3 separate regions of the Homo sapiens genome follow, and all the other regions are linked to region 3. Evidence: fine-mapped QTL for protein levels in blood plasma. Region 3 holds a variant in brackets. A gene starts in each other region. All regions are shown on their forward strands.

Region 1 (11,880 bases), not on the chromosome of region 3:
ATAGCATTTGCAGGATTGGATTCTGATTATTTGTACACGTCATTCCCACCATTAAACTGTGAGCTCCTCATGAGCACTCACCGTGCCTTATTCTCCTCTGTATCCCAGCACTTGGTGCAATACCTGATACAAGAGGTACTTGGCATTTGCTTGTTAAATGAATGTATGTAGGTATAGGTGAATGGATGAATGAATACCATATTTTCTAACAATTTCTGGTTATTGTTTATTGAACACATCTTTTGTGCCAAACACTGTGCTAGAAGCTTTCAGTCCTGAATCAGTCTAGGTTCTCAGTTGCAGGCAGCATAAATAGACTTTGGCCATTGTAAACAGAAATGGAATTCACCAGAAGGCTATCAAGTCGATCACAGAATCAATGGAAAGACTAAAGAAGTCGACTGAGAAATGGGCAGGAGCCAACACAGGCCAGCCAGCAGAGACAGGCTGAGGTCACATCTGGGCAACGTCCAGCCAGGACGCCACCGCTGGCATCACCCACACTGGACACTCCCTTCACTGATGCCAGAACCTTGAAATGCCCGCTGCCTCCTCCACTGTCCAACATGTATGTGTACCTCGCCTCGGCTGATCCACGCAGCTCTCTGAAGCAGAGCCTCTCCTCCACTTTACAGATGATGAAATTGAGTCTTAGAAGCCTATGGTCACACAGCCAATCAATAAGGTGGGTGGAATTGGAATCAAGATCTGTCTGACTCCAAGGCCTTCCAACCACTCTGCACTGTCTCCTTCCCGGGGGCACCACTGACATTGTTCTTCATGAAGGAGCTCCCTGTGTAACGCTACACAGCAGCCCCGAGATTCCACATTGACGTGGGCTGATTGAAACTGCTTCCAAGAGGTTGTACATCAGACACCCAGAGATCCTGGAAAACAGGGGTCTGGCCTAAGGCTCAGGGAGGCCTGCAGAATCTAGTAAAGGACTCCAATGTCCCCACCTGCCCCTTCCAGCTCCCATGTTCCATGGCTGCCTATTAGCCACCCCGGGCAGGCTTAGTAAAGGGCAGACAGAGCAAAAGGTTATCGACTCTTCAGCCCAGCCCACTTCCAGGGTCACAGCTGCCCCCAAGACTGTTCTGTCATATCCTCTGGATGGCATGGCTTTTACCGGGACCAAAAGATGTCCCCACCAGGAACGTCCTCCTTAAACCCAGATGACCTGGGGCAGTCAAGGACAGAGCTCCAGGCAGGGAACCCACGCACCCAGTCCTAGCCCAGCCCCACCTCCACTGCTCTGTGACCTTGGCCCAATCATTTCACCTTTCTGGCTTTGCTTTCTTTGTGACTCAATCCCTCTCTACTGTCCTGCCCTCCTGCCCTCCCACCTTCCACACCAGCCAAATTGTTTCATAAAAAAAGAACTCAGGGTTCTTTGAGCTCTTTGGAGAGACCACATAAATGCAGGGCATTATTAGCATCATTACTATTAAATATTAATAATGACATTAGCATCATCTATTATAAGCCTGAAAAAGGAGCTGCAAGAGCCCTGGGTTGAAATGGCAAAGAGAATAATTAGGCCCCTCCAGGCCACAGACCCCTCTGGGCCCTCACATGAAATTAGGAAGGCAAATGCAGACAGGGCATTGAGATCTTCCTTCCAGCACCCCTGCTAGGTCAACTTGGCTTCTCCAGGCATTACACAAATCATGGCCTTCCCAGGCCCCACATCTTGGCTCCTGCCACACCACATGCCCCCATGCCAGAAACACATTCCCCACCTCCTCTCTGTCCATCCAGGCTCAATTCAAGATGCACCCACCCACCCCCACTGAAAGCTTCACCCACATCCTACCTCCCTCTCTCCTCATCCTCTGAATGGTTACTATAGCTACTCTCCTTCATTCATTCACCCAGTCAACAAATATTTATTGAGTCTCCACCATGCACCAGGCACTGTGCTAAACAGGAGGGTGGGGGACTGGGAGAATACGGACTGATGAGATAATCCCTACCTTTTGGACTGCATAGCTGAGGGAATGGCCATCAGTATTTGATATGGCACTTTGCAATTCAAAGTGCTTTTAAAAACCATTATGTTTAATTCACATATCCTCACTACCATCCTAGATAGGAGTAGGATCATTCCTATTTTACTGGTGAAGAAATGGATTATCTGGGCGATTAAGTGTCATTCTGTTACTTGCCCAGAGTCATCCAGGTAGGAGTGACAGAGCTGGGACAGAGTCCAGTTCTCTTGACTACAAATCCAGAGCCACCCCAACCACTTGCAGCCCTTACTGCTCTGCCTCATATCCTTGTTTTACAGATGAGGGAGGCTAAATCCCAAAAGGGAAATACTGACATTTATTGAGCACCTGCTGTGCTAGCTACTTCACGTGTAACTCAACACTCACATCAACTCAGTGAGGTATGTGTCTTCATCCCCATATTCTGGGTGAAGAGGTATGTGGCTTGCCCATGGCCTCACATCTCCTCAGTAGCAGGACTGGGTGTCAAACGGGTCTGTCTGCAGAGCTTTTCCTTATGGCCATATCAGTTTTCCCCAGAGCTGTGGATGGACAGTCCTGTTACCACTGTCACACTGCTTCCAAAAAGGTCACTGGCACTTTGAAGACCGCATCCCCTGGCTCTTGGATCCCTACATTCCAGGCAGAGGAGCTGCTCCATAAATACATGGCCTCCTGGGAAAAGGGTCTGGGCAAAGATGCTGGTGGCGGGAGAGGCCAGGAAAGGAGAGGTGAGGCGGGGGAGTGGTGAGGAAAGAGACAGCAAAGCTGCAGCATCCTGGGGCCATGGCAGGGTCTCATCTCCTCCCCACTTGTCCCCAGGGATGGGGCCTAGAGGTCCCTTCTTGATCGGTTAGAGACCCACTGGATTCCATTGCTATCAATCTTGTGTGGCTACAGTAGGAAGAAGCAGATGGTCTGGGCAGGGTTGGGTGGCCCTCAAAATGCTTTCTGATCCCCACCCACCACCACCAAGGGAGCACCACATGTTTGCGGACAAATTTATAAGCCATTTGACTAGCCACCTGATTATCTTCACTGGCCCTTTCTTGCCCTGTTTGAAAGTCTGTGGGGACTCAACTTTGAGATGTGGAGTCCCAGCTCTGGACAACATGGAGTCATATTGATCAGCCACAGAAAGGAGAGGTGGCCCTTATGGTCAGCTGCACTGAAGATTGTGGGCTCTGGATGTCACCAAAGAAGAAGAAACTGTTCTGCCCCCTATTTTGCCCACCTCAAAAGAACAGACAGTAGGTAGCTGGAGTCCATGGCACGGTGGCTAAGCCAGGATGCTGGAGGCCGATCCCAGGCCTCACTCTGTCATCTAGGCTGGAGTGCAGTGGCACGATCACAGCTCACTGCAGGCTTAACCTCCCAGGCTCAGGTGATCTTTCTACCTCAGCCTCCTAGGTAGCTGGGACTACAGGTGTGCACTGCCACACTGGCTAATTTTTGTGTGTTTTTTGTTGAGACGGGGTTTCGCCACGTTGCCCAGGGTTCCACTTGTTTACTATTTCTTTTGAGCAAGTTCCTTACTCTTACTGAGCAACATCTGAAAAGTGAGGATAATAACAACATGGACCTCTTGCGCAAGTAATTCAGGTAAAGCATTTAGCACAGCTCCCGGCATGTGGGAGGCATTCAAAACAGATATTATTTCTGTTATTATCAAGCTAATGGGCCCCACAAGCAAAACTCAGCCTGCACCCCCAAATGCCCACCCCACTCTCTCCTCAGGAACAGGAGCATCTCAGAGACTGGGAGTGCAGATCCCCCTAATCTCCCCAAACTCATTCATACTAGACTTCACTGAGAGCTTCAGACAAGTGAGAAGATGAGACTTTGGGAACTGTCTCCCCATCCAAGTCTAGGCTTGGCAAATGTTCTTGTTTTCACTTATTGTGTCTGCCAGAGTCCACATGGAGCATGCTGGTTGCATTGAGATCTGAGAGTCTTTAAGACCCAAGTCACCTGTGCTAACGACCCTCCCCAGAGACCCAGCTCCCACCACAGGGCAGCAGCTGTCCTAAAATAGAGTCACAAAGACAGCTGTCTCCGTCTAAAGCAATCCTTGCAAGCATTTCCAGACTGTTGGTTCCTGGGCCAGCCTATTTCCTGGCCCGTCAGCCCCCTGCAGCAGACATAGCATCCTTTTCTTGGCAAGGACTTGTTCCTGCCGTTTTCTGCTAGGAGAGAACTTGCAGAGCCTCTCTTTGGAGCCCAGGCTGACTTGAATGGTGCCAAAGAGCAAGGTTCACCTCAGGAGCTCAGAGCCAATGTGCCAGCCCTCAGACATACAGATAGGCAAGGACAGTGTGGGCAGGGGAAGGAAGGGAAAGATATCCTGGCAAGGGGTTGATGTGTCTGTCTATATAACAGCATTCAACATTATTTAAGAAACATCATTAGCAAAATCCAAGTCCTCCCCATCAGGAACAAAGAAGACTATCTCTCAAGTTGGGCAAGCCCTTTGGAGGGGCTCAGAAGGAAAGGAGGGGAGCGCATGTGGGACCTGGGCAGACATTCCAGCCTTGGAGGCTGAGCAGCAGAACCTCCCCGACTCCTTCTCCTTTTCCAGACCCTCTCATTCTGGCCCAGGTCCCCAGGACCTCCTCCACTCAGGGAGACATGGAGCCATGATCCAGGCTTGACAGGTATAGCCATTTAAAACTGGGAGGCTGGCCTGGCCCTGCCAGCTGTTGCAGCATCTGGACTGCTCACCGGTCTTGCCTGTGCAAGCTGGACAGCAGGCAGATCAGAGGGGGGTGAGACAACAGTGACAGCCTGACAGGGCCGACTGGTGCCGCAGATGGCTGGTCCCTCCGCCTCCGGGCCACAGCCTTCCTGGGCACTCCCCCACGTGACCGGAGCAGGGCAGGAGAAAGGCATCGCTGACAAGGGTGAGCACTTAGAATCTCAGAGCTGGCAGGACTGTGTCCATCTTTAATCCCTTCAGGTACCAGCGAGGCTCAGAGAGGGCAGGGCACCTAGCCAAGCACACACAGCCAGTCGGTTGTGGAGCCCAGAGTATGCTTCAGACACCCAGACCCCTAATCCAGGGAGCTTTTCATGACATCACACTGCTGGTTGCTTAAAAATGGGATTGGATCCAAACGTACTGATGCGTAAAAGTGTCCAAGATCAGTTACACAGTTAAAAGTCTTTGGCCAATCCTACTGTTTTATGTAATCACATTTGTGTGAAATAACCCTACTAACCCATGTAATTGTATACACGAAAATAATAAACCTGGGGGCATGTACTTAGATTTATTAAGAGTAGTGGTTGAGGGACTTTCACTATGTATTTTTAAATGTCCTCTAATATTTAGATATTTTGACAAAAAGCTCAAACTACTTTTGAACAAGGGAAACAATAAAGAGGAACATGGGGTGGACCGGGCAACAGAGACAGCCCCTCCCTGCCACTTGCCCCACACAGCAAGCTGGGATTTCTGATTTGGATCTCTTCCTCGGATAGGGGATTTCTGGGGAAACCAGGAGTTTTGGCTCCATGGGTCTCCAGGGTTTGAGGAGTAAGAGCCACTTTCTTTTCCCTCTTCACCCCGCCCCTCTCCTGCCCCTTCAGCCCTGGGCAGGGGGACTAGAAGTGGGGCTGGGCAGGATCGGGAGGGCAGGCGGGCCAGACAGCGCCCCGCGGCCTGTCCATGAGCGGCCCATGCATTATGGAAGACGCGCGCTGGGCTCGCTCCCTGGTCCTTAAATGACAGCAAATGAGGTAAAGCCAGGAGGGTGGGGACGGAAGTGGGGTGGGAGGGGGGCAGAAGGAAGCCATCTCCAGGGCCCCCGAGCGTTGGCTGAGGACCAGAGCCAGCCAGTGAGCGGAGCCTGGGAGAGGGAGGAGCACATCTTGATGCAGAGATGCTGCAGTGGCTCCGGGCGCGCTCACACACACGCGCCCTCACCCGCCACCGCCGCCGCGGCCGCCGCCGCACCCGGACAGCGAGCGGCTGAGGCCGCCAGGGCCCAAAGGACAGCGGCCCAGACAGGGGCTGGCGGCCCGGCCGGCCCCGGCTCACCGACTCGGGCAGCATCCACCTGCCCCAGCCAACACCCTTCTCTCGCCCCAGGTAGGTGCCAACCGCTTTTGTCTCCTCCAACCCAGGGACTTCCCTGCGTGCTGTTATGGGCCGGGGCTCCCGGCTCAGTTCCTGTAAATATCCCCCTTGTAACTTGGGAGGGAACAGGGACAGGAACACTGGCAGGCTGGGGCCGTTCTGACTTCTCCCCTCAGCCCCAGGGTGGGTGCTGGGGCTCCCCTCCGCCCTGTCTACGTGGGCGGCATCCCGCAGGGCTCTCTCAGGCCGAGCCTGGCCGAAAAGCTGGACCCCAGGAGTGTGTCCAGGAATTCCAGTTGGCCAGCGGGCAGTGGCAGCTGCCTGTGGAGAGGGCAGTTTCTCCTGGGCCGGCCCTGGGCACCCGGTCCAGGACAGGACCAGTCCATACAGCCAGGCCCTGGGCCCTGGCCTGCCCCAGAAGTCCCTGCATGGAATTGAGCCGGAGTCCCCAGTTTTGAGGTCACCCAGGGTCTACCTCTGCAGGGTGACCTCTTTGCAAAGTCTTGCTTCAGCTGGATGGAGAGGGGGGCTGTGGAAGAGAGAGGGGAGAGTGGAGCACAAGTTTGGGCAAGGGCCTGTCCAGGAACTGGGACTCGGGGAGGAGAGTCCTGAGGCCAGTCACATCCCAAAGGGCGAGAGGCTGGGGCTACCGGGCTGAAATTCCTTTCCTTCCCTTCCCCCTCCCAACCTTAGCTTCTCCTCAAATCCCTCCCCCCCATCCTCACTGGTGGGAGGGAAGAATTTGCACAAAGTTTGGCTTTCCAGTAAGGAAAGGGGCTGGGGCCAGAATGGTATGGGGAAGGGAAGGGGCAGAGCTGGGGAGTTCTGGAAAGAGAGGGCAATCCTTCTGCCCAGCACCGTGGGGCTTACATAATGGGCTGGAGGTGGGGGGCAGCCCCAGCCAGTGAGTGTCCAGAGCTGAATCCTGTCACCTTCTCCAAGAGGGTCTCTCAGGTCTGGGAAGCAGCGGGGCATGGAGAAGGCAGTGCCTATGGAAGGGGAGAATCCTGCTGCTACTTGGGGATGGAGACGGGCACCCTCTAGCCCCAGACCCCTGGGGGTTGAGCCTGTGTCCTGGGGGGGGGGGTCCAGTGAGGCCAGGAGGGAGTGGGGTTGTGCATGCCATGGCCCCAGCCCTGGAGAAAGGTGGGTTTCAGCATCTTTTCCCTCTGCTCAGAAGGAGCTGGGAGGAGGAACAGCCCAAGAAACCCAGTGCACAGGTGATGTTCTGGTCTCGTCTGGGCAACAGTTTCGGCCTCCTCTCCCAACCGTCTGGCCAAAGACGCCTCAGCTCACTTAGCCTCCGAGTCTCTCTACCTCCTGGTCCCACTCAGAGGGGCCGGATGAGCCACTGGAGATCGAGTGCAGCAAAAGGTGGGCCACCTGTGGGAGAGGCTGCTGTGATCGCACCTGGACAGGGAGATGGCCTGGAGGTCACAACAGGTGCCCTCACTCCTGGCCTTGGGAGAAGGGAGCTCTCCCCTTAAAGACAGCAGCATCCAAGCCCCTCCCCAGGGTGCCCACCAGTTAACCCCTTTCTAGCCAAGCTGCAGAACCATGGACAGGGCTTTTGCCACAAGGTCAGAGTCCTTCCTAATCTCCCGTGGAAGTCCTCAGCGAATAAGAGGGAGGCAGGAGGTGAGACAGACAGGAAAGGGCCCCTGACCTGATGATGTCAAAGTCACCCAAGGTCCACCTGCCTCACAGGTGCAGAGACCACTGTGCTCACACCATGAGCGGTGAGGGAAGCAGAGGCACACTCCTTATGCAGATGAGTGCCTCAGACTCCAGGAGTCTGCTCTCATTCCCGGCTCTTTCTCTCTTACTCTCCTCCCTTCCTCTACTCCTTCTTTCCTCGCACTCCCTTCTCTCATCGCGTGTACTCCACCGGCTTCAGCCCTCAGCCTCCCGCCGCCACCATTTCCCCTGCCAGATTTCACTCCTTATGCAACTCCATTCCAGCACCTTCTCTGCCAGCAGTTGTTCAAATAGAGACACATGTGGGATGGGCCTCCGAGGAATTGTGCTTAACGGGGTGATTGCACATCTCGTCTCTGGCTGACCAAACTTACTCCTTAGGAGCATGTACATAGACAGGTGTACCCCAAGGCATCCTTTCTGCCTCTAAAGTCACCAGGGAAGCAACGCATTTGGGGTGGTTTGGAGGATGCATGGTGCCCTCTTCAGAAACCTCCTTGAGCCAAACGTTGGTGAGAAAGCGTATTTCAAAGACAATCTCTAAGCCTGAGTGTGGGTGGTATTTGTATTTTTGGAGGGATTCCTAGGGCAGAACCAGGGGGTTGGAGAAGAGGTGATTGATATGCAGGGGAGGAAGAACCAGAGCAAAGAATATGCCAGGGAAGCCAGAGGGACTTAAGTTAGACTGCAGGAGACACTTCCTGGCTAGAAGAGTGAGCCATGAGGAGGTGGGGCAGTCTCCTTTCAGATGACTCTAAGGATGGTGTGGAGAACTGGGGTCTGGTCCAAGGTTAGAGAGTCCTGCCTAGAGGCAAAGGTTGGGCTGGCTGACCCTGTAAATTTCTTCCAACTTCTAGTAATCCTCTTTCAAATGGTAAAAGGTGGATGTGACTCAGGAATCCATAAGAAGGCAGACATCCTTTTCATCCCCTCATGCATGCTGGCCACCCCCTCATCCTTCAGGACTACAACCCCAATCTAAACAAACCACCCAGAGGCTGTTGCTAACCTGGAACATTTATGGGAGTTTCTGTGGGCTCCGTATCCTGACGGTAACCATCCTAGAGTAAGTCCTTTCTTAGTTTGATGATTCCTTGCTACAAGATTAGCCCATGTTTCTTTGTTTACCAAAGAGAATGCAAACAAAAGCAAGGAGTGTGATATTCTCATCCAAAACCTGAACACCTCCCATCCCAGGACACACTCAGGCCCAAACGCATCTCAGTGTCCTTTTTACCTAATGAGACATTCAGTTCACTACGTAGGTGGGGAAGTCAACCCCAGCCCCTCACACACACCCATCTAGTCAAACCTGCTGGGCTTCCTCCAGCCTAAGCCCACATCTTCTCAGTGCCTGCCACCCTGAACACCCTGACCAAGGGGTTCTCCCACCCTGTGCCTGGCTGGAGGGCAGCCTTCCTGCAGTGCTGCCCAAGAGGTGAAGTTAATCTGGACCCCAAATCCAAAGGAAACTAGCTTGAGAGGAGGAGCAGGTTGGACCTCACCCCCACCAGGCTTAAGCTCTGAGCCACCCTGGAGGAAGCTGTCTAGGAACTGGGGGGAGCCTCCTTGCAGCAGAGTTGGGGGACAAGCAGAAATTGCTCTGCTAATGCACGAGGAAATTTTCTTCCTGATTTGCTTTTTCAGAAACAAGTTGAAACCATTGTTCTTACGCCTGGCATCTCAAAAAGGGATCCTTCTAAAGCCCTCACTCACTGCCTCACACCACACACAGAGCAGGGCAGGCAAGTAGGAAAACCTAAGGTCTGGGGGTGGCTGGCTTCTGATCCTGAGCTTCCCAGGAGGATGGAAGCCTCTCTTCTTCTGTCCACTCCCTACTTTAAAGGGTCTCTCTGTTAGAGTAGGTCTCTCTTGCAGGGGCAAAGACTCTAGGCTCAGATCAAGGGCCAGACTCCCCCCTGCCCAATGCTAGAAGATCAAACAAATCCATGAGCCTGGGAGCCACAGCTCTCCCCAGAGGGCACGTCAGCACCAGGGCTGGGCCTCGGGGAAGCAGCTGCAATCACAAAGAGCCTGCAGAGAGAGCTGAGCAGCTCACAGAGGGGACTAAGGAAGGACGGGGCTGCACGACACCCCTGGTCCCCATTGGGGCTGAGGAGGTCCCTATGTCCCCATTTCTGCCCTAAGGATGTCTCCAGCTCAGGGTACCACAGAGACCCCTCAGTCACAATCCTTCACCCCACCCCTGCCAGCTGCAGCCTGGCCTGGCCCGCTGAGATCCTAGCAGCCCTCACCCACGCCACCACAGAGCCCTGTACTGACCAGAGGGGCATGGGGATGGTTCAGACCTTCCTGGAGGATGATGGTGCTGTCCCAGGAGGCAATTCTTGTCTTAGGCAAAGGAAAAGGTACTGATCTTAGATCCCATCAGGCAGGAGGTGAGGGCTGTTGAGAAGGAGTACCTGCTTGGGAGTGCCTGTCCTGGCCGCGTGACCCCCTGAGCACATTGTACCAGGTATAACTCTGGCATGGGGGCTGTGTCCTTGTGCCCTAGTCTGGGGTGCTGTGCTAGTGCTTACCTATGACCATTGCACCTTTGAGGCGTAAGAGGAGGGAGGCACCTGCCCAGGAGATTGTGGGTTTGTCAGTCTCCTAAATACATATGAGTGCCGCCTGGACGTTGTGACTGTATAGAAGTAAGCCAGACAGGCACAGTGGCTGCGGACACACGGCTGTGAGATTTCTCAGTTCTAAGATCTGATCTTTCCTGAGCACTCACTATGAGCCTGTGATGGTGCTGACCTCACAGCAGCCCCATGGGGCGGGTCCTGCCCTTCTCATCCCATTCTTGCAGATGGGAGAGTGAGGCTGGGAGAGGTTAAGTAACGACTGTGATAACCAGGTTATACTAGTTAGTTTTATTAGGGTTATACTAGCTAGACAGCAGCAGGCAGGTTGACTCAATGGCCTGCCCTGTTAACCAGTGTGCTGTTTTATAGGATAGAGGTCAAGCGGGGGCCTGAAGGGCTCCTCAAGTACTTTGTAGGCTGATAATAAATCACTTAGTCTCTGCCCACAGCTGGGCTCTGAACTCCCCTTTGCTACCACCATCCATCGGAAGTTGCCAAATCTCTCATTGCTCTCCAATCTCCATTACTGGGGAGAAGGGGAGACAGATTCAGGGCCAGGAGCTGGGCATCCCAGTAGGGAGAACTCTGGGGTGGAGGGTGTACCTTTTATTTTTTGACTGGCTCCATGCGGGGGGCCTTATCCCAGAAAACCTTGTCGTGTGTTGGAGCCCCACTCATAGCCTTCTGTCCCCCAGCTGTCCCCCAGGCCCTTTGTTTCCTGGGACTGACAATTCAGCCAACTCCCCCTGGTGCCCCCGAACCCCCCAGTGGTCCACTCCCCCATGTGCTGGTGCCTTGCAGGACCAGCCCCTGCTGATGACAGCCTGTGCTTGCCTGTGCCAGTCTGTGCCTGCACCCCTGCACCAGGGCAGCTGGCCTGGGCGAGGCTTGGCTGGCTCAGGGTTCGCAGGGCCAGCTCTGGGCCTGGCATAGCTCCACTCCAGCCTTGCTCCTGACAAAAAGGCCTCCTCCATCCTGGGCATTCTAGAACGCATAATAGGGCAGATGGTATGGGGAGATGACTGATCGGTGAACTCATGAGCGCATTCTAGGCTGCACTCGGGCGGTCGGGGAGCTCTGTAGAGGCAGTAATTTTATTACTGTCTCCCCTGTGCTTAGCACAATGCCTGGCACATGGTCAATAAACACTGTGATGGAAATGGATGCAGGGCAAGACTGGACGCCAACTGCCTCACCTTTAGGGAGGCAAGGAGCTCCAGCCTTTAGCCCAGACTCTGCGTGTGTGTGTGTGTGTGTGTGTGTGTGTGTGTGTGTGTGTGTGTGTGTGTTCACCCAAGGCTGTGGCACACAATGGAGCTCAATATACATCTGATCAGGCTGATGGGTCTGTGGTGCTCCCCCAGGGCAACCCCAGGTGCTCCTGGATCCCAGCCCCTCCCCTGCAGTCTCCTCTAAGGCTGTATGTCTCGATCCCTGGAGGGTACCCAGGATCCCTGGGCCGGATTATTCGTGATTACCCATGGTAATTACTTATGGTAATAGAGATAACAGATAATTCTGA
Region 2 (3,496 bases), not on the chromosome of region 3:
AGCTCCTCCCCCACCCTCGCGGCCCCCTCCTGGCCCTTCAACCCCCTTCTCAGCAATTAGCTTACTATCGCTTGCCCAGCTCCCCTGCAGAAGTAGCCACAGCAGCAGCCCCTCTGCTAAGAAGATGGCAGACCAGCAAGACACCCACTTCCAGCTGAAGTCCCTTTTGGAATTGGGAATTGGAGGTGGGTAGGAGAAGGGGTAAAAACTAAATGCGGCCAGAACTGAATCCAGACTTGCCTCCCTATCACACTGCCTCTGGCTACCTCTGGGGGCCAGTCTGCCTCTCCCCTCGATTCCACCCCATGCCCTAGTCTAGTTGTAATTACAGGTTCCAATTCCCCCAGACCTTAACGTCAATAAAGTAACACCCACCTACTCCCGCGCCCCCCACCCCCTACAAACACAGCTAGACCTCCGGCTTGTCATAAAAACTTTCTGGGCGGCCCCTTCCCTGGCAGCTCCCGAGGGTTGACCCAGAGCAGGTGCTAGAAGCCTCGCGGCGTCTTCCTGCACGAAGCGACCCAAGCAGCCCCAGTCCGCACCGCCTTGGTCAGCGGGCGCTCCCAGCACACACCCAGCGCGCGGAGCGACTCCTCCCAGAGGACGCCGAGTGTGTGTGTGTGTTGCGGAGATTAGGGGGTGGCGGGGGGGACGGCGGCAGTTTCTTGGGCTCTGGCGGCCCCACCCCCACCCCGGCAGCGCCCAGCCTCCAGGAACCCAAGGCAAGGCTAGGGCGCGGCGTGGTGAGAACGCGCTTCGGCTAGTGGGGGGAGCCCTTGCGCCCCCCGCACCCAGGCCACCGCGGGGAATCCCTCCTCCCCGGCATCTCCGGCCTCGGCCTAGGGTCCCCCGCAAGCCGGAGCCGGCGCGAGCGGCGCAGCGGGCGCCAGGAGGGGGCGGGGAGGGAGCCGGCGCCGGAATCACAAAGCCGCGAACCCGGCTAGGCGGGGACATTCTCATAAAACCGACCCTCTCGTGGCGAGCAGAGGGGGTTTTTTGCCCTACGCTCAATCCTCCAAGGCCTCAGTGCCGCCCCCAGTCTTTCCTGGCAGAAGAAATAGTAGCCGACCACTGTTGGGGAAACTGAGGCCAGAATTCTGACTTACAGAGGGTAGCTGGGGGGAAGGGGTGCGAGACCACCTCGCCTACAAATTCTGCTCCTATGCCTGCCGCGATCTCCGTTCTGGCTCCAGGGCCTGCCCGCGCACACACTGGCCTACAGCGGGGACCAGGCGGAGGGGGCGCTCAGGTGTGAGACGAACCCAGGTGTGCGGGACCCACCAAGGTGTGTGGGACCCAGGTGTGCTGGAGACCCAGGTGGCTCAGAAAACTCAGCTAAATGGCTGGAAGAGGGTCGCAATCACCGTCCCAGGCTAGCACCCTCTACAAAGGAACCTGGGGCCCCAGAGCTCCGGGGAGGCGGGATGGCTTGGCCAGCCAGGTCCAGCTTGTTCCCGGAACACCAGCCGGTTCGGCCCGGGAGTGGGGGTTGGGGAGGCGCCGACTGGGAAGCCGGCAGGCCGGCCCAGCCTTCCCGCTGTGCCGATATTTACAATAATAATGTCGCGATTAACGTGGCGGGGCGCTTGGGGCTCGCCGAACGACCCCGGCGGCTTCTCCTGCCTGAATCTGGACTCCGAGAGAGAGGAACGGAGTGTGTGTGTTTGTGTGTATGCGCTGCAGGGTGTAATGTAATGTGACACTGTTGGTTTAAGGTGTGTGTGACACCCAGTGTTAAGATGGGTGAAGCAGTGGATTCTGTGTTTGTGACCGTGAGGCGCTGCTGTAGGTGCCAATTCCTGTGTTAGAGTGTGTGCCATCAAGCGTGTGCTGAGATACTGGGTTGTGTGTTTGTGTGGGTGCAGTAGAGGGGTGCAAGGAGACCTGTGCTGTGTACCTATGTTCTGGCCAAGAAGTGGGTAAGATGATATATGCTAGGGTGTGTTCCTTAAAGGAATGTGGGGGGTGGCTAGGTTTTGAGGGTTCATCTAGTGAACTGTGGCTGTGACACTCGTACATGAGGGCACGAGATTGTGTTTGTGTGTCCACGTCGCGGGGTGTCACACCCGGTTGTGTTATTGCTCTGTAAAGCCACGGGTTGTGTGTCGGTGCTGCTGATCGTGCAGACACTGAAGCGGATTCTGAGCTGGCGACGGTGCCCCAGTGGGCGCTGGTGTGCGGGAGGTATGTCTGTGTGCACATATGCAGGGATGTATGTATGTGTGTATATATGTCCACGGTCTGGCCCTCTGGGTGCCCGCGAGAAGCTGGAAGCGGCTGAGTGAGCCGAGGTAGTTGCCCAACAAGTGTGTATGTATGTGTTGTGGACAACGGTCCTTGCTTGCTCCGTCCTCCGGGAGACCCCCACCAAACTGGGGGCCGCGCGCTTCCCCAAACCCATCCTCCACGCCGCGCGCTCCTGGAGTCTCCTTATCCCCGTCTCTCCGAGCGCGCCCAGGTTTGGGACGCGGGGACTAGGGTTCTGCTCAGCACCCCCTCCCCTCCCTCGGCTTCTCGCCGCGGACCTGGGAGGACGGAATCCCTCAGCCGCATCCCCTGCTATGGGCTCCCAGCAGCCCCCACCTCAGCCCCCTCGCGCCGAGCTCGTGTTGGGCCCCCGCGGCCTCGCTCCGCCGAGCGCCCCTCCCTCAGCTCCCGCCGGCCATGACCGCTTCGGGCCCCAAGCCGCTGCTGCCTCCACCGCCGCCGGATCCTTACCCGCCTCCGGGCAGCGCCGGCCGCCCGCCCCGCTGTCCATGAGCCGCCGCCGGCCCCGGCCTGGGCTGCGGCTCCGCACGGCTGGGGCTGGAGCTGCAGTTCGGGCTCCGGCTCCGGCTCCGGCTGGCTCTGGGCGCAGCAGCCCGGCGGCTTTGCGTCCGCGCCGCGCTCCCGCTCCCCGAGTGTGTGAGGCGGCGGCGGCGGCGGCGGCGGCGGCGGCGGCGGCGGCGGAGCCAGCAGAGAGCGGAGCGCACAGCCCGGCCCGCCCCCTCCCTCCCCCCTCCCTCCCGGCCCGCCCGCCTCCCCGCCCCCCCTCCGGCCGGGAGGTGGAGCTCGGGACCGCTCCGGTCCGGCTGGGAGGGGACCCCGAGCACCGCTCCCCAAAGCCTGGACCCCTCCCTCTGCCATCTCTTCACTGCCCGAGGCCCAGTACACAGGCCGTGCCCTCCTCTGAGCTTCACCTTACACTTATCCCACCCAAGCCTCCATCTAGGACCGCTCCTGGATTCCCCTCCTTACCCTACTCAAACACCTGTCCCCAGCTCTGTCTGCCCCCTGGGAAGTCGAGGCAAGGGAAGTGTCTCCCACAGCGCCTTCTTCCCTGGGCACCTGCTCCTCCATATCCACCCTCTTCCCGCCCAGATCCCCGATCGCCCTGTGTGGCCCTCCCTTCCCGCTGCGCTCGGGGAAAGTCCACCCCTCCCCCTCCGGCCGAAGCCGCAGAGCGGTCAGCCTCGGTGGCCGCAGCAAGCCGTGGGGGTGGGGCTATGGAGGG
Region 3 (9,761 bases):
GCTCAGTTTAAGGCTTAGCTGTATTGCCAGTACTGAAGTACTAATATGAGTGTTGTTTAGTATAATGAAGTCAAGGTACATCAGTAATACCAAGATAAAGTTTCATAATAAAAAGCCATAAAGTGAAGACAGAGATTTCAAAGTAAAAGAATATTTTATTTGTGGAATTTGATACTTTGATAAATAATCAAAGTACAAGCCCTGTTTAAAATTAAAAGTTCGGCTTACAAATATAATAGCCAATGTATCAGTGTCTTATGTGATACTATATCATGGATATATTGATGTTATAAAATAATTAGATACAGAGTCATGCAACTTGCTTTCACCCTGTTGGGACACTCTGAACAGTCAGCACTGTTCATTTGATAGTAATTTTCAGATGCTAGAGAGATTTGTGAGAGGCTGATAATGCAAGAGTAATGATTTATGTAGCCAGTTTCTTCAATGATCTGTGATAACAAATCATTAAGAATGAGACATATGGCTTAAGAATGAAGCTTAAGAATTTGACATATGGCCGGCTGTGGTGGCTCACACGTGTAATCCCAGCACTTTGGGAGGTTGAGGCAGGTAGATCACTGGAGTCCAGGAGTCTGAGACCAGCCTGGGCAACATGGAGAGATTCTACCTCTACAAAAAATACAAAAATTAGCTGGGCATGGTGATCTGCAACTATAGTCCCAGCTACTTAGGAGGCTGGGGCAGGAAGATTGCTTGAGCCCAGGAGGTCAAGGCTACAGTGAGCTATGATCATGCCACTGCACTCCAGACTGGGCAACAGAGTGACACCCATCTAAAAAAAATAAAAGAGAATTTGACGTTGTGTTATTCTACGCTCCACCAAATACCTCTCCCCTTGCCACCCTGTCTCCCTTTCCCTCTGTTTTAGGATTTTTCTCACACTGTAAAAGAAGATTTACTCACAGTTGTTAAAAGCTTGCCTTCCAGCTTTCTAATTTGAGGTAGGTTCTATAACCTCTGTGGGTCCCCGTTTCCACATGTAAAAGATGAACATAATACTAGTACTACATTAATAGGGTTAGGAGGGTTAAAGGGTAAAGAGTCCTTTGAGCACATTTTCTGGCAAACCATAATAACTTGATAAATGCTAAGCATTGGAACGGGTACCAAGTCTCCAAGAAACAAGTATCTCAATGCAGTTTTAGAAATTTCCTGTTTTATTCTTTTCTGTGGCCCTGCTCACCCTCTGGGAATAATCATTTCAACTTTGCATTTGTGAAAAATAATACATACAATCTTAAGGTTACTTCAGACTATACTTTTTCATCGAGGAGTATTGTATTCAAAAGTGATCGATCTGCTGAATATATAAATTAAAATGGACACAAGCCTTCATTCATCAGACATTTGAGTGTCTGTCCTCTGAGTTCCCATAGAATCTGAATTACACCACTTTATTCACACTTACATTATGTGTTTACTTTTCTGAGTGTCCTATTAATCTTTATTCCTTAAAGGAAAGCCTGAGGGCATCTTGTTTAACAATGCATCTCTCTCTTCATCAATCAACGCTGCAGGTGCTTACAAGACTTATAACTTAAAAAAATTATAATACAAGGCTCAGCGCAGTGCCTCAAGTGCCAACAGTTTCGGAGGCCTTGGCAGGCGGATCACTTGAGGCCAAGAGTTCGAGACTAGCCTGGCCAACATGGTGAAACACCGTCTGTACTAAAAATACAAAAATTAGCTGGGTGTGGTGGCACGCGCCTGTAGTCTCAGCTACTTGGGAGGCTGAGGCAGGAGAATCACTTGAACCTGGGAGGCAGAGGTTGCAATGAGCTGAGATTGCGCCATTGCACACCAGCCTGGGTGACAAGAGTCTCAAAAAAAAAATTATAATACAAGTAATTACTTTCGAATTCTGCCATGGGTATCTTTTTATTATTAAGAAAAGCCTGTCATCAAGGGATTCATTTATGATATTCCTAAATATGAAAATATTTTGTGTAAGTATATATTTATCTCCATATTAGAACTTAGCAACAGTGCTCAGATAAACTCAAAAGTATTACTTGAGTTTAGAATGCATTTTGTATCTAATATTTTAATATGAATGTGCCTGATATTTTCGGAAGTCACAACACTATACAAATAATGAAGGCATGTACAGAAGATTATGTGTAGGAGGAAAATTGAGTAGCTAATTTAATTTCATTTAATATTTTACTTAGAGTGTATACATGTTTATAGACTGCAAGTCTATGGGATTTAATAGATATTACAGCAAATTACACTGCGAAAACATTGATAGTTCTACACTGTAATTAAATGTTATATATATTATTAAAATTATTAGGTTGGTGCAAAAGTAATTGAGGTTTTTGCCATTGAAAGTGGTGGTGCATGCCTGTAATCCCAGCTACTCGGGAGGCTGAATCAGAATTGCTTGAACCCGGAGGGCAGAGGTTGCAGTGAGCTGAGATCTCGCCACTATGCTCCAGCCTGGGCAACAGATTGAGACTCTGTCTCAAAAAAAAAAAAAAGTCAAGTACAGTTAGTTAAAGGAATGTGCATTTAAAAATTAATCTATGATTAGGCTATTAATATATAGTCTAATAATTTTATTGCATTATAATTATAAAGTAGTTTTATAATTTTATAAAATTTTATTGATGCTGTAATTTTTATAAAATTTTATTTATTTTATAATTTTACAAAAAATTCTAATACCTGTAATACACTTTTTAGTGCCTTTTCTTTCTAAAAGTTAATGTTTGAAATTACAATGTGTAAATGTTATCTCGTCTTGTTTTTCTTATTAGGGCCCCATTTCACTGAATGACAATTGCAATGAGGCATAGGAAAGAAAAGGGAAATGAAATTGCTTGCTGAAGTCCTACTATGTTCTGGGCACTATGCTGTTTGCCTAATACATAATTGCCTTGTGCTGTGTACCTTGGAGCAGGGCCTTACATAGTGAATATATCAATAGTTGTTCACAAAAAGAGCAATATACCACTTAGAAGCTACAAAACTTAAAAATGGCTACTTATACTCCATAGAAGATATAGTAAATAATAGAAGAAAAAAATGAAATGGCTAAAGACATTTTGTTTTACAATGGGGCTGTTTTTACATGTTAATTAAAATTCTATGTTTAAACAAATCTCTTGTGATGGCTGTTTCATTATGAGAGGATGCATTTGTATTAGTCAGTCCTCTAGAGGGACAGAACTAATAGGATAGATGTATATATGAAAGGGAGTGTATTAAGGAGTATTGACTCACACGATCACAAGGTGAAGTCCCACAGTAGGCCATCTGCAGGCTGAGGAGCAAGGAAGCCAGTCCGAGTCTCAAAACCTCAAAAATACGGAAGCCGACAGTGCAGTCTTCAGTCTGTGGCCAAAGGCCCGAGGGCCCCTGGCAAACCACTGGTGTAGGTCCAAGAGTCCAAAAGCTGAAGAACATGGAGTCCAATGTTGGAGGGAAGGAAGCATCCAGCACAGGAGAAGGATGGAGGCCAGAAGACTCAGCAAGTCTAGTCCTTCCACGTTCCTCTGCCTGCTTTTATCCTAGCTGTGCTGGCAGCTGATGAGATGGTACCCTCCCAGATTGAGGGTGGGTCTGCCTCTCCCCATTCACTGACTCAAATGTTAATCTCCTTTGGCGACACCCTCACAGACACACCCAGGAACAATACTTTGTATTCTTCAATCCGATCAAGTGGACACTGAATATTAACCGTCACAGCTCTTATACAATGTTCAGCTTCCTGGTTGTCTGTCTCACATCCACCTTCTGTGCTCTGTAGTAATCGAATCCAAACACACAAACAGTAGAGTCAGAAGGTGAAAAAATAGAGAAACAGAGAGCCATGTACACCTGCCCACACAGAGACACTGAGAACCAGATCCAACTGCATTCGAAAGGTGTTTCCAATGTTTACAGGTGAGATTAATTAATGAATTCTAAATCATACAGCGCCCCTTCAGGTTGAACAATGCACAACCTCTACATCCCTGAGTACTAGTGATTAATAGCTTTAGTAACCTGAGATATTTGTATTAACAATTATTTACAAGAGCTTTTACATATATTACCATATCCTGAAGATTATTTTTTGGAAATTTCATTAATTTGTCATTTGACAAATTTGAGTGCCTGTTATAGACTAGGTATGGTTTTATATGAATTTGAGGATAATATTTACTAAAGTAACACTTGCTGTGAAAGTGTGCATTTATATATACACACATCTTAATTTCCCAAGATATGCCTATTTTTAATAAGATTATTTTTTATTTTAACTTGTAATTATTCTTATATTGAAATGGAAATAATGGATTTTTAAGGAATGCCTTCTTTCTCTACAAAACTTTTTTCTTTTAAATATTTAACTCAGATACCTTAGAGGTGTTCAGAATATTTGAGTGAATAAATAGAAAATTTGCGTTTCAAATTGCTAAAAATTATACATAATCTTACATAGTAAGTGTTGTTCTGAAGAACCAGCCCAACATTGTTGTGTCTTGGTTTCCATCTGTAAAGTATAGGTCACTTTCAGATTATAAACACATGTTTAATCTTATTCTTAAAATTTGTTTCTGCCGGGCGCAGTGGCTCACGCCAGCACTTTGAGAGGCCGAGGCGGGTGGATCACGAGGTCAGTAGATCGAGACCATCCTGCATGCTGTCTAACACGGTGAAATCCCATCTCTACTAAAAATACAAAAAATTAGCCAGGCGTAGTGGCGGGTGCCTGTAGTCCCAGTTACTGGGGAGGCTGAGGCTGGAGAATGACGTGAACCCAGGAGGCGGAGCTTGTAGTGAGCTGAGACTGCGCCACTGCCCTCCAGCCTGAGTGACAGAGCGACACTCCATCTCAAAAAAAAAAAATTTGTTTCAAAAATTAAATGGGTCAAATAGCCTTTTAATTAAATTACTTTGTAAAATTTAGTATATTAAAACGATGTGTGCCAAGACAAAACCAAATGAAACAAAGTATTGGTTATAGAAATACAAAATTCAAAGGTCCTTCAAATACTATGAATCTACACACTGTTGATTACAATAAGTCTAAATATGTTATCTGAAGACAGTTACAATTAAAGCCTAATTTTATGTAAGTAATTGAATGCAAAGAAATTGGATTGCTATGATATAGTAGTTTTCTATTAAACTGTAAATGCATTGTTGATGTTTTGCTATGGTTTTGGTAAGGACTGAAAAATATGAGGTATAAGAACATCTAAATTTTTAAATTTTTACTCAAAAATATCTTTTTTTTCTTTTGGCTGGTAGGAATTATGTTGATAAGAGTTGAATAAATTTGTTCATTAAAAGATAGGCTTACTGAAAACACCATTTCTGAAGGGCTTACCAGTTTTATCTGTGAGAAATGATGTAACAGGTTATGAAAAATTTTGCCCAGCTATTTTTCTTGGAACTATTTCAGAGCAAAGCAGACACTAAGTTCATCATACGTGAAACTGAGTGGGTAGGAGGTGGCTGGTGTTTGAGAAAGTCTAGGAGGAAATGACACAGTTGATTGTCTTGCCAATAAAAAAATGAGAATTTCCTTTATATTTTAGCTTGAAGAAAGGACTAGTTAAAAATAACCACCATCATCAATAGCTAACCAAAATTCAGAACCAGAACTTAGTAGAAGGGTGTAGACAGGATGGCATGAGTTGGATTTTTAAAAAAGTTTGGTAAAGGATACATAACACAATTATTATTGTAGTCATTTCAACTGTACAATTCAATGGCTCTAAACATATTCACCATGTTGTTTAACTATCACCACTCTGTATTTCCAGAACTTTTCATCATCCAACATCCAATGGGCTCTGTGCCCATTAAACAATAACTCTCCATTCTCCTCCATCCTCCACCTCCCACCCCTTAGTAAACTCTCTTCTTCCTATGTCTCTGAATTTACCTATTCTATATACCTCACATAAGTGGAATCACATAATATTTGTCCGTTTATGTTTGGCTTATTTCACTTAGCAAAATGTTGAAAGGTTGTACATATAGCAGGTATCAGGATTCCTTTTTACGGCTCTATAATATCCCACTGTATGTTCATACCACATTTGTTTATCTGCTAACAGACACCTGAGTTGCTTCTACTTTTTGGCTATCATAAGTAAAACTTCTTTGAACATTGTTGTACAAATATGTGTTTGAGTCCCTAATTTCAGTTCTTCTGGGTATATACCTAGAAGTAGAATTGCTGGATCGTATGATAATTATAGTGTAACTTTGTGAGGCATTGCCAAGCTGTT[T/C]TCCGCAGTGGCTACACCATTTTACATTCCCGCCAGCAATGCCCGAGGGTTCCAATTTCTCATATTCTCACCATCACTTGTTATTTTCTGTTTTTTTAAAGTAATAATTCTTTTGGGTGTGAAATTCTATTTCATTGTAGTTTTGATTTACATTTCCCTAATGACTAATGATGTTGAGCATCTTTACATGTGCTTAGCTTATTGGCCACTTGTATATCTTCTTTGGAGAATTATCTGTTCAGGTCCACCGACCATTTTGTATTTGGTTTTGTTGTGGTTATTGAGTTGTAGTTGTTAATATATTCTGGATATTCATCCCTTAATCAGATATGTGATTTACAGATATTTTCTATTTTGTGCTGTCTTTTCACTTTCTAGATAGTGTACTTTGGTGGACACAGTTTTTAACTGTGATAAAGGCCTTTTTATCTACTTTTTTATTGCTTGTGTTTTTGGTATCCAATCCAAGAAATCATTGTCAAATCCAATGTTGTGAAGATTTTATTTCCTGACGTTTTCTTCTAAGAGTTTTATAGTTTTTAGCTCTTATGTTTAGGCATTTGATCCACTTTGGGTTAATTTTTGTATTTAATGTAAGGTAAGAGTCCAATTTCATTCTCTTTCCTGTGGATGGCCAGTTTTCCCAGCACAAATGCTGTTCTTTCCTCATTGAATGCTTTTGGCACCTTGTTGGAAATCAACTGCCCACATAGGTTTATTTCTGGCCTCTCTATTGTATTCCATTGGCCTATATGGCTATCCTTATGCCTGTACCACACTGTTTAGATTACTGTCATTTTGTAGTATGATTTGAAATCAGGAAGTGTGAATCGTTCAACTTCATTCTTTTTCAAAATTGTTTTGGCTGTGCAGACTCCCATGAAATTCCATATGAACTTTAGGATGGGGTTTTTCATTTCTGCAAAAAAAAAAAATCATTGGGATTTTGATAGGGATTGCATGAATCTATAGATTATATTGGATAATATTGACATCTTAACAATATCAAGTCTTCCATTTCATGAACACAGGGTATCTTTTCATTTATTTAGGTCTTTTTCTTTCAGCAACCATTTGTAGTTTTCAGTGGACAAGTCTTTTGTCTACGTAGTTAAATTTATTCCTAAGTATTTTGTTCTTTTTGATTCTATTGCAAATGGAATTTTCTTAATTTTATTTTCAGATTGTTCATTACAAGTGTATCAAAATTCAACTGATTTTTGTGTTTTGATTTTGTGTCCTGCAACTTTGTTAAATTTGTTAGTGCTACAGTTTGTGTGTGTGGTGTGTATGTGTGTGTGTGTGGCGTGTGTATGTATGTGTGTGTGGTGTGTGTGTGTGGTGTGTATGTGTCTATTGTGTATGTGTATGTGGTATTTGTGTGTGGTGTGTGTGTGTGTGTGTGTGTGTAAGCTTTAGGACTTCCTACATTTAAAATCAGGCCATCTGTGTACAGAGATAATTTCACTTCTTCCTTTTTAATTTGGATGCTTTTATTTATTTTTTTCTTTCCTACATGCTCTTATTAGAACTTCCAGTACTAAGTTGAAGAGAAGTGATGAAAGCAAATAAAAGCACCAATCAGAACACACAGTCCTGACATTTGGAGGGCTAAATCCTTGTTGCCCGGCCTGGCCTCACCTAGCTGCACTGGGCGTGTGGGCTGCTTCCCCCTTCACAGCTGCCTGACACAGCCATAACCACAGGGAGAAGCTGAAATTCGCTGAAATGTACCAGCCTCTTTATCAAGCTCTCCCTTGGATGCTCCAAGTTTCTGACTAGACTAGTTCCCAAATACAGATGGTCCTTGACTTAGGATTGTTAGACATAATGATTTACCCACTTTATGATGATGTGAAATAGAAATGGTGCATTCAGTAGAAAATGTATTTCGAATACCCATACACCCATTCTGCTTCTCACTTTTAGTACCATATCCAATAAATTACGAGATACTCAACACTGTATTATAAAATAGGTTTTGTTAGATGATTTTGAAATAGAAGAGTTCCCTTATGACCCTCGCAGGGGGTGCGACAGGAATGAGGCTTGCTCCTTTGGTGCCCTGCTGCTCAAACCCCTAGGGGGGAGCATGCAGCATGCAGATGGGCAGGTGCAGAGGCTGTGGGGAGTGCTTTTGGGCTCCACCCCACGGCAGCATCTAGGACTCCTGAAGCCCAAGTGGGCGTGTGTTACAGTGTGCTCTTTCAGCTATACCATCTGCAGACAGCTTGTGTTAGTCAGCTCAATAGACCCTCTGCCTTATCACAAGGACAGGGAGGCAGTGTGACAGCCTGAGTTCTTGCCCAGTGTACTGGAAGAATCAGATCACATGTGGGCTGGAGGGTTGAGTGCAAGGTTTTATTGAGTGGTGTAGGTGGCTCTCAGCGAGATGGATGGGGAACTGGAAGTGGGGAGTGGAGTGGGAAGGTGGTCTTCCCCTGGAGCCAGGCTGCCTAACCCCCCAGACTATTCTCCAACCACTGCTGGCCAAACTCCCCTTGGTGTCCAGATGTCCTTCTTCTCTCTTTCTCTGCTGCGCCACCCCACTGCTCTCCACTGCTCTATTCCTTCACTCTTCTCAATGTTTAGCGCTTGTGTCTATGCCCATTAAGGTCTCAGGTTTTTATGGGCACAGGATGCGGGGTGTGGTGAATCATAGTGGTCTTGGAAATGTAACATTTGCGCATGAAAACAGGAGTGCCTGTTCCCACTTAGGTCCGTGGGCACAGGTCCGAGGGTGGAGCCCTCGCCAGGGATCCTGCCCTTCTCTACCTAGCACTTCTCTGCCTCCTGTCCCTATCAATTTTGCCCAGTTGGAAGCTAATGTAAGTGTTCTCAACACGTTTAAGGTAGGCTACGCTGAGCCGTGATGTTTGGTAGGTCAGGTGTATTAAGTGCATTTTTGACTTAGCATATTTCAACTCACATTGGGTTTAACAGGGCCTAATTTGATCATGAGTAGAGGAGCACCTGCAGTTACTTCAGTCAGTTCCTGTCCATTTGATGGCTGCTTAGATGGAGGGATGAATTCCTGGAGTTTCCCACACCACCATCTTCTGTGACATCCCTTCCCCAAGATTTGGATTTATTTTTTGCCCCAGTGGCCTCTTGTAGCCTGATAAATCTTTGTTTCAACGAGGTCAAGGTCATGGGGTAAATTCTTTGTGGGGTGGTTGGCTGCATTTTGTTTAAACTTCACAGATTTTAGTACTGATCCTAATTTTTAATTTTACTAATGTGATATACACACTTATGTAATTAAAAAACAAACCCTGGGCCAGGTATGGTGGCACACGTCTGTAATCCCAGCACTTTCAGAGGCCAAGGCGGGCGGATCACTTGAGGTCAGGGGTTTGAGACCAGCCTGGCCAACATGGTGAAACCCCGTCTATACTAAAAATGCAAAAAATAGCTGGGCATCATGGCACGCGCCTGTAATCCCAGCCACTTGGGAGGCTGAGGTAGGAGAATCGCTTGAACCCGGGAGGTGGAGGTTGCAGT

Direction of the effects. Alleles are on the strand shown, and positions count from the first base shown. The strength of an association depends on the size of the effect and on how common the allele is.
With allele T in place of C in region 3, the plasma level of the protein whose gene starts at base 5,899 in region 1 is lower (weak association).
For the plasma level of the protein whose gene starts at base 2,909 in region 2, T is the low allele of the variant in region 3 and C is the other (weak association).

What was found. A credible set is the group of variants that fine-mapping cannot tell apart. PIP is the chance, under the fine-mapping model, that this variant and not a neighbour inherited with it causes the effect. Protein levels are from antibody-based Olink assays in UK Biobank. Linkage for the fine-mapping came from a reference panel and not from the study's own genotypes, which makes the PIPs less certain.
Region 1: CNTN2 starts here. The variant in region 3 is the best candidate, but not a certain one, in a credible set for the plasma level of the CNTN2 protein (UK Biobank, PIP 0.51).
Region 2: PCDH1 starts here. The variant in region 3 is the best candidate, but not a certain one, in a credible set for the plasma level of the PCDH1 protein (UK Biobank, PIP 0.70).

Annotation. Positions count from the first base shown.
Region 1 is chr1:205,037,314-205,049,193 of GRCh38, forward strand. It overlaps CNTN2 (contactin 2), which reads left to right and starts at 5,899. Exons shown (of 23, transcript NM_005076.5): 1 at 5,899-6,081. RefSeq lists enhancers at 5,593-5,737, 5,685-5,829, 9,896-10,400 and cis regulatory regions at 5,665, 5,757.
Region 2 is chr5:141,875,502-141,878,997 of GRCh38, forward strand. PCDH1 (protocadherin 1) reads right to left here and starts at 2,909. Exons shown (of 5, transcript NM_032420.5): 1 at 2,722-2,909. The coding sequence starts at 2,761. RefSeq lists enhancers at 1,207-1,891, 2,158-2,907.
Region 3 is chr10:17,797,739-17,807,499 of GRCh38, forward strand. TMEM236 (transmembrane protein 236) reads left to right here. Exons shown (of 4, transcript NM_001098844.3): 4 at 1-3,130. Among named protein-coding and RNA genes, the nearest start is that of MRC1, 6.7 kb to the right of the region's middle. The variant T/C (reference allele first, on the strand shown) is at 6,258.